Linked DNA regions of Homo sapiens. The protein of the gene in region 2 interacts with the protein of the main gene of each other region in a pairwise test. Each region holds a gene or a part of one and is shown on either strand. Other genes may lie near its edges.

Region 1 (4,372 bases), on a different chromosome or scaffold from region 2:
AGCAATTGATTTAAAAAAATTTTTTTAAGCCAGCGTGAGCCAAAGGGGCAAGACCAATGGGGCTGGAGCACCTCAAGCCCATGGTGGGCAGTGGTGGGTCAGAGCTGAGCCCGAGGGCCTGGTTTCTCATCTTCTTTCTCTCTTTTTTTCCTTTTGATCCACCCGGCCCCCAAACAAAAGTCAGTGCCTGAGTACACAGAGACATTTCTCCTTTCTCACTCTCTAGTGAAGAGACCCCATGTAACCACAGCAGGGGAGAGATGCCACCCAAGGTCATCCAGGGAGATGGGGGGGTTGGCATCAAGGACGAGCATGGGGAGTTTCTGTGGCTTGCCTGTGGGTTACGCTCTGTTACTCAGGCACACGTCTGTCTAAGGGAGCCCCCTGAGGGGTGCCTCACACAGCGAGGGCAATCTGTGTCACTACTGTGAACTCCTCCCTTGGTTTGGGAGTGGGAAGGTGCAGGGCTAACAGATGACATTTGGAAGGGCAGGAAATATTATCTGGCACCCACAGGCCTTCCCAGTGGGATCAGAGCCCAGGCAGCTGGAGGCCGATTTGGTGAACAAGAAAGAGCTCAAGGCCCTGGGTTCCAGTCCTGGCTCTGCAACAAGCTCTCTGCGTGATCTTGGGAAATTCACTTCCCTTTAATGCCGAGATGACGGACTGGGCAGCATGGTCCGGGTGGTCCCTTTCCACCCTGAGGTCATACAGCCCTGGGGTGAAGCTCAGGGTTGGCGGGCTCAGGCCTCACTTGTTCTCCTGCCCCTCCCTAATTCCCCCACCCGGCCTGACTGACAGCTGGGCCAGTCAGGGCTATTTATGGCTTTGCCTGATGTTGTGCTCCCCTGCGCCTCCCATGCTGGGCCCCACCCAGCTCGGGCCCAGCACCCACCTGCCCAGTCCACCAGCAACATCGCTGGGAGTCGTGCTGCTTTGGCTCTCCCAGAACAAGCCATGCCCTGGGGAAAGAACTCCTCTCCCCACTGGGGACACCATCTGGGGTGCCTTCCCTCCGCCCCGGCCTGCCGGATCTGGAGGCCCCACTCCCGCCCAGCCTGGGAGCCCCCTCGGCCATCACCACTGCTCTGCCAAGACATGGCCCTGCAGAATGCCCTCTACACCGGGGACCTGGCAAGGTTGCAGGAGCTGTTCCCCCCGCACAGCACAGCCGACCTGCTGCTGGAGAGCCGGGCCGCAGAGCCTCGCTGGAGCAGCCACCAGAGGGGTGAGGGGCATCTGGGGGTTGCTGAGAACCAGGGGGCTGGGCTGACTGCCTCGGCCACAGAGGTCCTAAGGGCTTGAGTGAAAGGAGAAGCCCCCGGCTGTTTCTCCCCGACCTCAAAGCTTGCCCAATAGCCTACACCTTGGCCCAAGAACACAGTCATGTGGAGCCCAGAATAGCTCCTGCTGGATGCGTGGCCAGGTCAGCCTCGGAGCGTGGGACACAGGGGCCTTCTGTCTGTCTGTATTTCCCTCCTGCTCTCTCTCTCTCTCTCTGCCTTTGGCATATACCTCTCCTCCTCCCCACTCCCCTTTCCCTGCCCACATGCTCATGAGTTGGTCTCCAGAAGAGTGCAAGGGGCAGGGAGAGCCCCTCGATGACAGACACCCCCTCTGTGCCAGGCTGGTGGAGAAGCCCAGCAGAGGGTCTGAGGAGCACCTCAAGTCTGGCCCGGGACCCATCGTCACCCGCACAGCCTCAGGACCTGCCCTTGCCTTCTGGCAGGCAGTGCTGGCTGGGGACGTGGGCTGTGTCTCCCGCATCCTCGCGGACTCCAGTACTGGCCTGGCTCCTGATTCCGTCTTTGATACCAGCGACCCAGAGCGATGGAGGGATTTCCGCTTCAACATCCGTGCTCTGAGTACGGGCCGGGGCACTGGGGGCTCTCAGTGGGAGAGAGGGGAGGCTGCAGATGGAGCTCTGGGCTCCCTCTTCCTGCCTCTGCCCACCTCACCCCATTGGCTGGAAGGTCTCTGCCTTCCCTGGGGATCTGAGGCCCACGTCTCCCCTCCCTAGGACTCTGGTCTCTGACATACGAAGAGGAGCTGACCACCCCACTGCATGTGGCAGCCAGCCGTGGCCACACGGAAGTCCTGCGGCTGCTGCTGAGGCGGCGAGCAAGGCCAGACAGTGCCCCTGGGGGCCGCACCGCCCTGCACGAGGCCTGTGCTGCAGGCCACACTGCCTGTGTTCATGTGCTGCTGGTGGCAGGAGCCGACCCCAACATCGCTGACCAGGATGGGAAACGCCCCCTGCATCTCTGCCGGGGGCCTGGCACCCTTGAGTGAGTGACCCCTCACCCCAACCCCCAGTTCCACTCTGAAGGGAAGCAAAGAGGCCTTCTCAGGGAGGATGGGGGAAAATGTCAGGGACCTGGGACAGAGCAGTCCAGGCTTGGGGCGCGGGTCAGGGTGCAATTACTTCCCAAGCCATCCACCCGTTGACCCCATGAACTTTGGAGTGGCCTGGACTTTGGACAGTTTTCTGGTCTCCCAGGGGTGGAGGGAGGCTGTGGCAGGGGTGCAGTTGCATGGCCCGCATTGGGAAATTGCCTGGCTCCATTATGGGGAGGTGGTGTTGCTTAAAATTTTTGAAAACACTTTCTGAGCTTATCCTATGTTCCAGGCACTGTGCTAAGCACAACAGCAACTAAGTCCCTGAGGCCCTGCCCTCAGGGAGCTTACTGTCCAGTGATCCAGACAGGGAGTAGAGGATGGTGGCCCCAGTGAGGACCTGCCTGGGTCCCTCTGGGTAGGGTCTGGTTTTCCAAGACAGGTCTAGAATCTCCATATTGGTAGGGCACCCTCAGATCATGGGCTCAAGGGACTCTCACTAACTAAACTCCCAAGAAACTGATGAATACACCCAAATGTGCCAATGTATCATTTATTGTAGGGAATAGTCCTTTGCAGTGACATAAATAATTGCAACCCAAGTGTAAGGAACGTTGTAGGATGGGATCCCAATTACAATTTTGTGAACTAACTCTACATCCTATAGAGGCCCTCTCTCTACTGACTGCACACCTGCAGGTCTTGTCTCTTGCCTCTGAAAGGTGCCAAATTATTGACCCTGGGGTTCTCCTTTCATGGACCCTCTCCTTCTTGTTAATCTCATCAGCCTCTAGAGGATTCCACAGGCTTAATCATACTATGGTTGAAGATGTGTTCTTTACTAGCGTGGCCCAGTGGAAACCTAATGTGAGCCATATATGCAATTTACAGTGTTCTAGCAGCCCTATAAAAAAAATGACAAATGGCCGGGCACGGTGGCTCACACCTGTAATCCCAGCACTTTGGGAGGCTGAGGCAGGTGGCTTGCTTGAGGCCAGGAGTTCGAGACCAGCCTGGCCAACATGCCCAAACCTTGTCTCTACTAAAAATACAAAAATTAGCTGGGTGTGGTGGCAGGCGCCTGTAATCCCAGCGACTCGGGAGGCTGAGGCAGGAGAATTGCTTAAACCTGGGAGGTGGAGGTTGCAGTGAGCGGAGATTAGATTGCGCCACTGCACTCCAGCCTGGGAGACAAAGTGAGACTTTGTCTCACAAAAAAAAAAAAAAAAAGACAAATATGTAAAATTAATTTTCAAAATGGTGGTAAAATATACATGAAATTTGCCTTTGTAACCATTTTTTATTTATTTATTTATTTTTTGAGACGGAGTCTTGCTCTGCCGCCCAGGCTGGAGTGCAGTGGTGCGATCTCGGCTCACTGCAAGCTCCGCCTCCCGGGTTCACGCCATCCTCCTGCCTCAGCCTCGCGAGTAGCTGGGACTACAGGCCCCCGCCACCATGCCTGGCTAATTTTTTGTATTTTTAGTAGAGACGCGGTTTCACAGTGTTAGCCAGGATGGTCTCAATCTCCTGACCTCGTGTTCTGCCCGCCTCGGCCTCCCAAAGTGCTGGGATTCCAGGCACGAGCCACCGTGCCCGGCCTTTTGTAACCATTTTTAAGCGTACAGTTCGATGGCATTAAGCACATTCATGTTGTTGTTCAACCATCGCCACCATCCATCTCCAAACTTTCTCATCTTCCCAAACTGAAATTCTAACCCCATCAAACACTAACCACCCACCCCACCCTGTCTCCCAAGCCCCTGGCAATCACTATGTTACTTTCTGTCTCTGAATGTGAACACTCTGGGGACCTCACATAAGTGGAATCATGTGGTATTTGTCCTTTTGTAACTGGCTTATTCCACTTAGCATGATGTCTTCAGACTTCACCCATGTTGTCCCATGTTTCAGAATTTCCTTCCTTTCTTTTTTTTTTTTTTACTCTGTCGCCCAGGCTGGAGTGCAGTGGCGTGATATCGGCTCACTGCAAGCTCCGCCTCCCGGGTTCACGCCATTCTCCCGCCTCAGCCTC
Region 2 (3,690 bases):
TGCCCTCGGATCCCTTCCCGGCCCTTCTCGGGTTCTTGCTGCCAACAGTGCCAAACCGAAACCCACAGGCGGGCCGGAGTTCCCTCACCAGGCCCCCTGAGGGCTGCTGCCCTGGCAGCCCCTCCCCAGAACTTCTGTCCAGGCCAGGCCGTTCTCTCACCCGGCGCCGCCCCGTGCTCACGCTGACCCCTCCATTCCTCCCGACGCCTCTGGGCTCAGGCTCTGAATGTGGGCGCTCAGAACTATCTTCTGGGTCTTTTCACCTGCGTGTCTCATTCCCCACCTGGCATGCAGCTCCGAGCCTGTGTGTGGCCCTCTCTGGCCAACCCGCCTCCCCAGCATGGGGCCACGTCTCAAGTCTGCCCACCCTCAGTTCCCCGTCAACTCAGAGACCAGACCCCGGCCGCGCCCACTGCCCAGACCCTGGGAAAGCGGAGCCAGGCCACGTGGCGCTCAGAGCTGGGGGGTGGCTGCTGCGTGTCTGGCACCCAGAGACCCAAGAGAAGAAGGAAGCAGAGCTTCCGGCTCTTTCTCCTGCAGCAAGACTTTTATTTAGGTGTCGGGACTGCTCTGCCACAGCTGCCCACCTGGGGCGCGTCCCTGCTGGCCGCCCCGTCACGGCCCGAACCAGCTGGGGATGCCGCCCCGCCGCGGGTCGCTGCTCTGCCACAGCTGCCCACCTGGGGCGCGTCCCTGCTGGCCACCCCGTCACAGCCCGAACCAGCTGGGGACGCCGCCCCGCCGCGGGTCGCTGCTCTGCCTCTGCTGCCTCTCCTCCTCGAGCATGCTGTAGAGGTCGTCGGCAGCGCTGCCTTCAGGGCTCTCGTCTTTCTCGGGAAACAGATCTGGGAACGTGAAGGTCTGTCCATGGGCCTAAGGGGGAGAACAAAGGCTCCAGCCAGAGCTGCAAAGACTCCTCAGCAGAGGGGTCTGTGGGGGAGCCTCATGCTTTCTGGCAGCCCCTTTCTGCCGGCGCCGGATTCAACTGCTCAGAGGTACCTCCCTGGGCCTCCTGGGGCAGCGTCCCTGCCTGGAATGTAAGCACCCCCACGGCCACCGGCCCCCGGCTGTCACGCTGCAGCAGAGGCCACAGCTCCAGGACAGGGCCGCTTTCCCCACCATTGTCTCTTTAGGGCCTGGTGTCTGCCCCCGCCCTGGGTGCACCCATTTACTAGCACGGGGCCACCTGGTTGGTGGGGGGCAGAAACAAGGCATGGAAAAACATGACACAAATCACGTCTGGTACCATGCTGAACCTGTCCATCCAAAATGCCTCAGGCTCTACTCACATTAAAGCTCCCCCTCCTCCCAGCCCAGAGCCTGGCAATTAAAGTGAACATCACGTACGAAGAAACATGCACGTGCGGCAGTTGATAAATCAGGACCGGCTCTGCCAATTAACTGGTCTTACATCTTCTGCTGAGAGTTCAGAATATGTCCGTGTCAGCCAAGCCCCAGCCCAGGCCACAGCATGTGGCTCGGGTTCACGAGAAGGAGGGGATACTGCTCCTTGGGGACCTAAGCAAATACAAGAAGCCATCTTAACTTGCTAATGATTACTAAGTGCTCCAAAGCTAAGAGGCAGAAAGAGCAGACCAGAGGAGAGGGAAGAGAAGAGGGAGGAGGAGTGAGGATGGCACCCGAATCTGGAACCCTTTAGTGAGTAAAATCAGTCAGGTACACTTGGCTCTTGCAGACCCTTTGTGTGTAAATAAATCTGGATGTGGGCAGGCAGCCAAGTATGATCTGAAACAGGCCCAGATCCCACCCTGCGAGGGAGGTGTATGCACCCTGATCCCTGGCGCAGAGCGCAGGGGCTGGCGGGGAGAGTGGCACTGCGTGCGCCGTAGCCGGCCTGCAGGAGGATTGCCTTACACAGCTCTGAACTTTGCGTCTTTTAAAATACCAAGGGGCAGTCGTTTACACGTGAGGCTGACTGCCCAGAATGGGAGATTCACCTTGACTATATGGAGGTGATTCTGCTAGTTTTCCGAGGCAAGGGGAACCCAAAATGACAGTTTAAAGCACAAACATGGCCATTTGTCACAGCTTCGGGAAGAAATGGGGAAAGGTGCTGAGAGAAAATCCGTTTCTTACAGGAGACAAACACCGTTTGGGGATGCCAAGCATGGTTTCCCAGGGGCTTCCCCTTTCTAGAAGAGTTCACCTTGTACCTAAAAAAAAAAAGCCCTTGATCCTTCCAAAAAGGAGAGAGACAGCTGATCGGGGTAAAGAACAGGAATGGAGAAAAATGTCCCAATGACAAGTAAACAAGGCAGCCCTGCCTTCAGGAATCCCAGGGCGCCCTGGGGGCTGCCGCCTGCCTGGACCTGGAGGCCGGAGCCCCGAGCACGGAGCTCGGCCCAGCTGGCGGCAGCGGTTTGTTCTGGAGTTGCCTCTCATGTCGTGCGCCCTTCATTCCTGCGCGCCCTTCATTCCCGCGCTGCTCAGCATCCACACAAGCCTCGGGGCAGCGGGCAGTCAATGGTCTTTTTGTTGTGTGGGTCACTGAGGCGCTGCTTTCAGCTCCCAGGACTTTGGGCCAAGGAGATGCTTATCAGGTTGTCGGAGAAAGAAATGTGGGACTCCCGCCACGTGGGACAGGGCCTTTCCACAGCGGCCAACTCCAAATAACGTGGATAATTTTACCTTTCCAATGCTCCCTCCCTGGGCTTTGCAATTAGCAGTGATTCTAAGCCCTGGCGCAGGGCCCAGGGGGACACGCTGAGCAAGGTCTCAGCAGACACGAGACAGGAAAGGGCCTTGAGAGTCCCCTCTGCGGGCAGACAGGGACCAACGGCCACGGCCCATTTCTAGGCTGTGCAAAGATGTGCTGGAGTTCAGGAAGGGGGGTGAGGACCCGTTACAAATTTTCATTCTGGAACAGGAGGATCCATGCCCAACTGGGACCCTTCAGGCTCCCAGTTGCCCTGCCCTGTCTCTGGCTGCCTGGACTTCACAGAGGGAGAACAACACGCGGGCAGCAGCTGCAGACACCGGATCCCGGAGCTGCTGGGTTCAGTTTTCATGGGAGGTGGGGCCCAGAGGAAGAACGCAAGGGCTCGGATGACTTGAATGCCACTTGTAACCGTAGCTGCCTCTGAAGTGCCCGTGGCGGTGCCGGCACACGGGATGTCCACCCACATGCCATGACAAAGACAGATGGGCCCGACTGACACTGAGCACACAGAGGCCTTTATGAGGCCAACGGCTGCTCTCCCCACCTGGATTGGCTGATTTCATGCACAGCAAATATCAGGCCAAATTATTCCGGGGGCCCCTGTTTAGAACAACAAATGTGACTGTTTTTCAGAAAAGCTGCCATGCTAACTTGGCCTTTTTCACAAACTGCCTCCTTAGCCCCACAACAGGCCGGCTGGCCCAGGAGGCGGTTTCCACCATCGTGTGACTGCCATCTAGTGGCAGGGCCCGCCGGCTCGGCCTCCAGGGACCATTTACACCGGAAGACAACCCCATCCCCACCCAGTAAGGCCAGCCCCAGGGGCAGAGTGGGGAGGCCCAGGAGGCGGCCGGGGCAGGCTGTGGACATCTTGGCCCAGAGAGAAAGTGCCTCTGGGTTTGCCTGGGACTCAAAATGAAGAGCCCAAAGAAAGGCTTTGAAACTGTGGGTCTCACTCCTGACAAGTCTGGGTTTCAGAAACTGAAGGCCCAGGCAACGTGGGGTGAGGG

What was found.
Region 1: the proteins of MRPL23 (region 2) and ASB10 interact in a two-hybrid assay, tested with the Homo sapiens proteins (one large-scale study listed by BioGRID and IntAct).

The regions. Positions count from the first base shown.
Region 1 is NC_000007.14:151,184,308-151,188,679, reverse strand, and holds the start of ASB10 (ankyrin repeat and SOCS box protein 10), read left to right. Parts: upstream 1-1,429; 5' UTR 1,430-1,549; coding exon 1,550-1,865; intron 1,866-2,020; coding exon 2,021-2,288; intron 2,289-4,372. UniProt on the Homo sapiens protein: May be a substrate-recognition component of a SCF-like ECS (Elongin-Cullin-SOCS-box protein) E3 ubiquitin-protein ligase complex which mediates the ubiquitination and subsequent proteasomal degradation of target proteins.
Region 2 is NC_000011.10:1,953,439-1,957,128, reverse strand, and holds the end of MRPL23 (large ribosomal subunit protein uL23m), read right to left. Parts: intron 1,519-3,690; coding exon of another isoform or gene 1,444-1,518; exon of another isoform or gene 1,348-1,443; intron 874-1,347; coding exon 709-873; 3' UTR 529-708; downstream 1-528.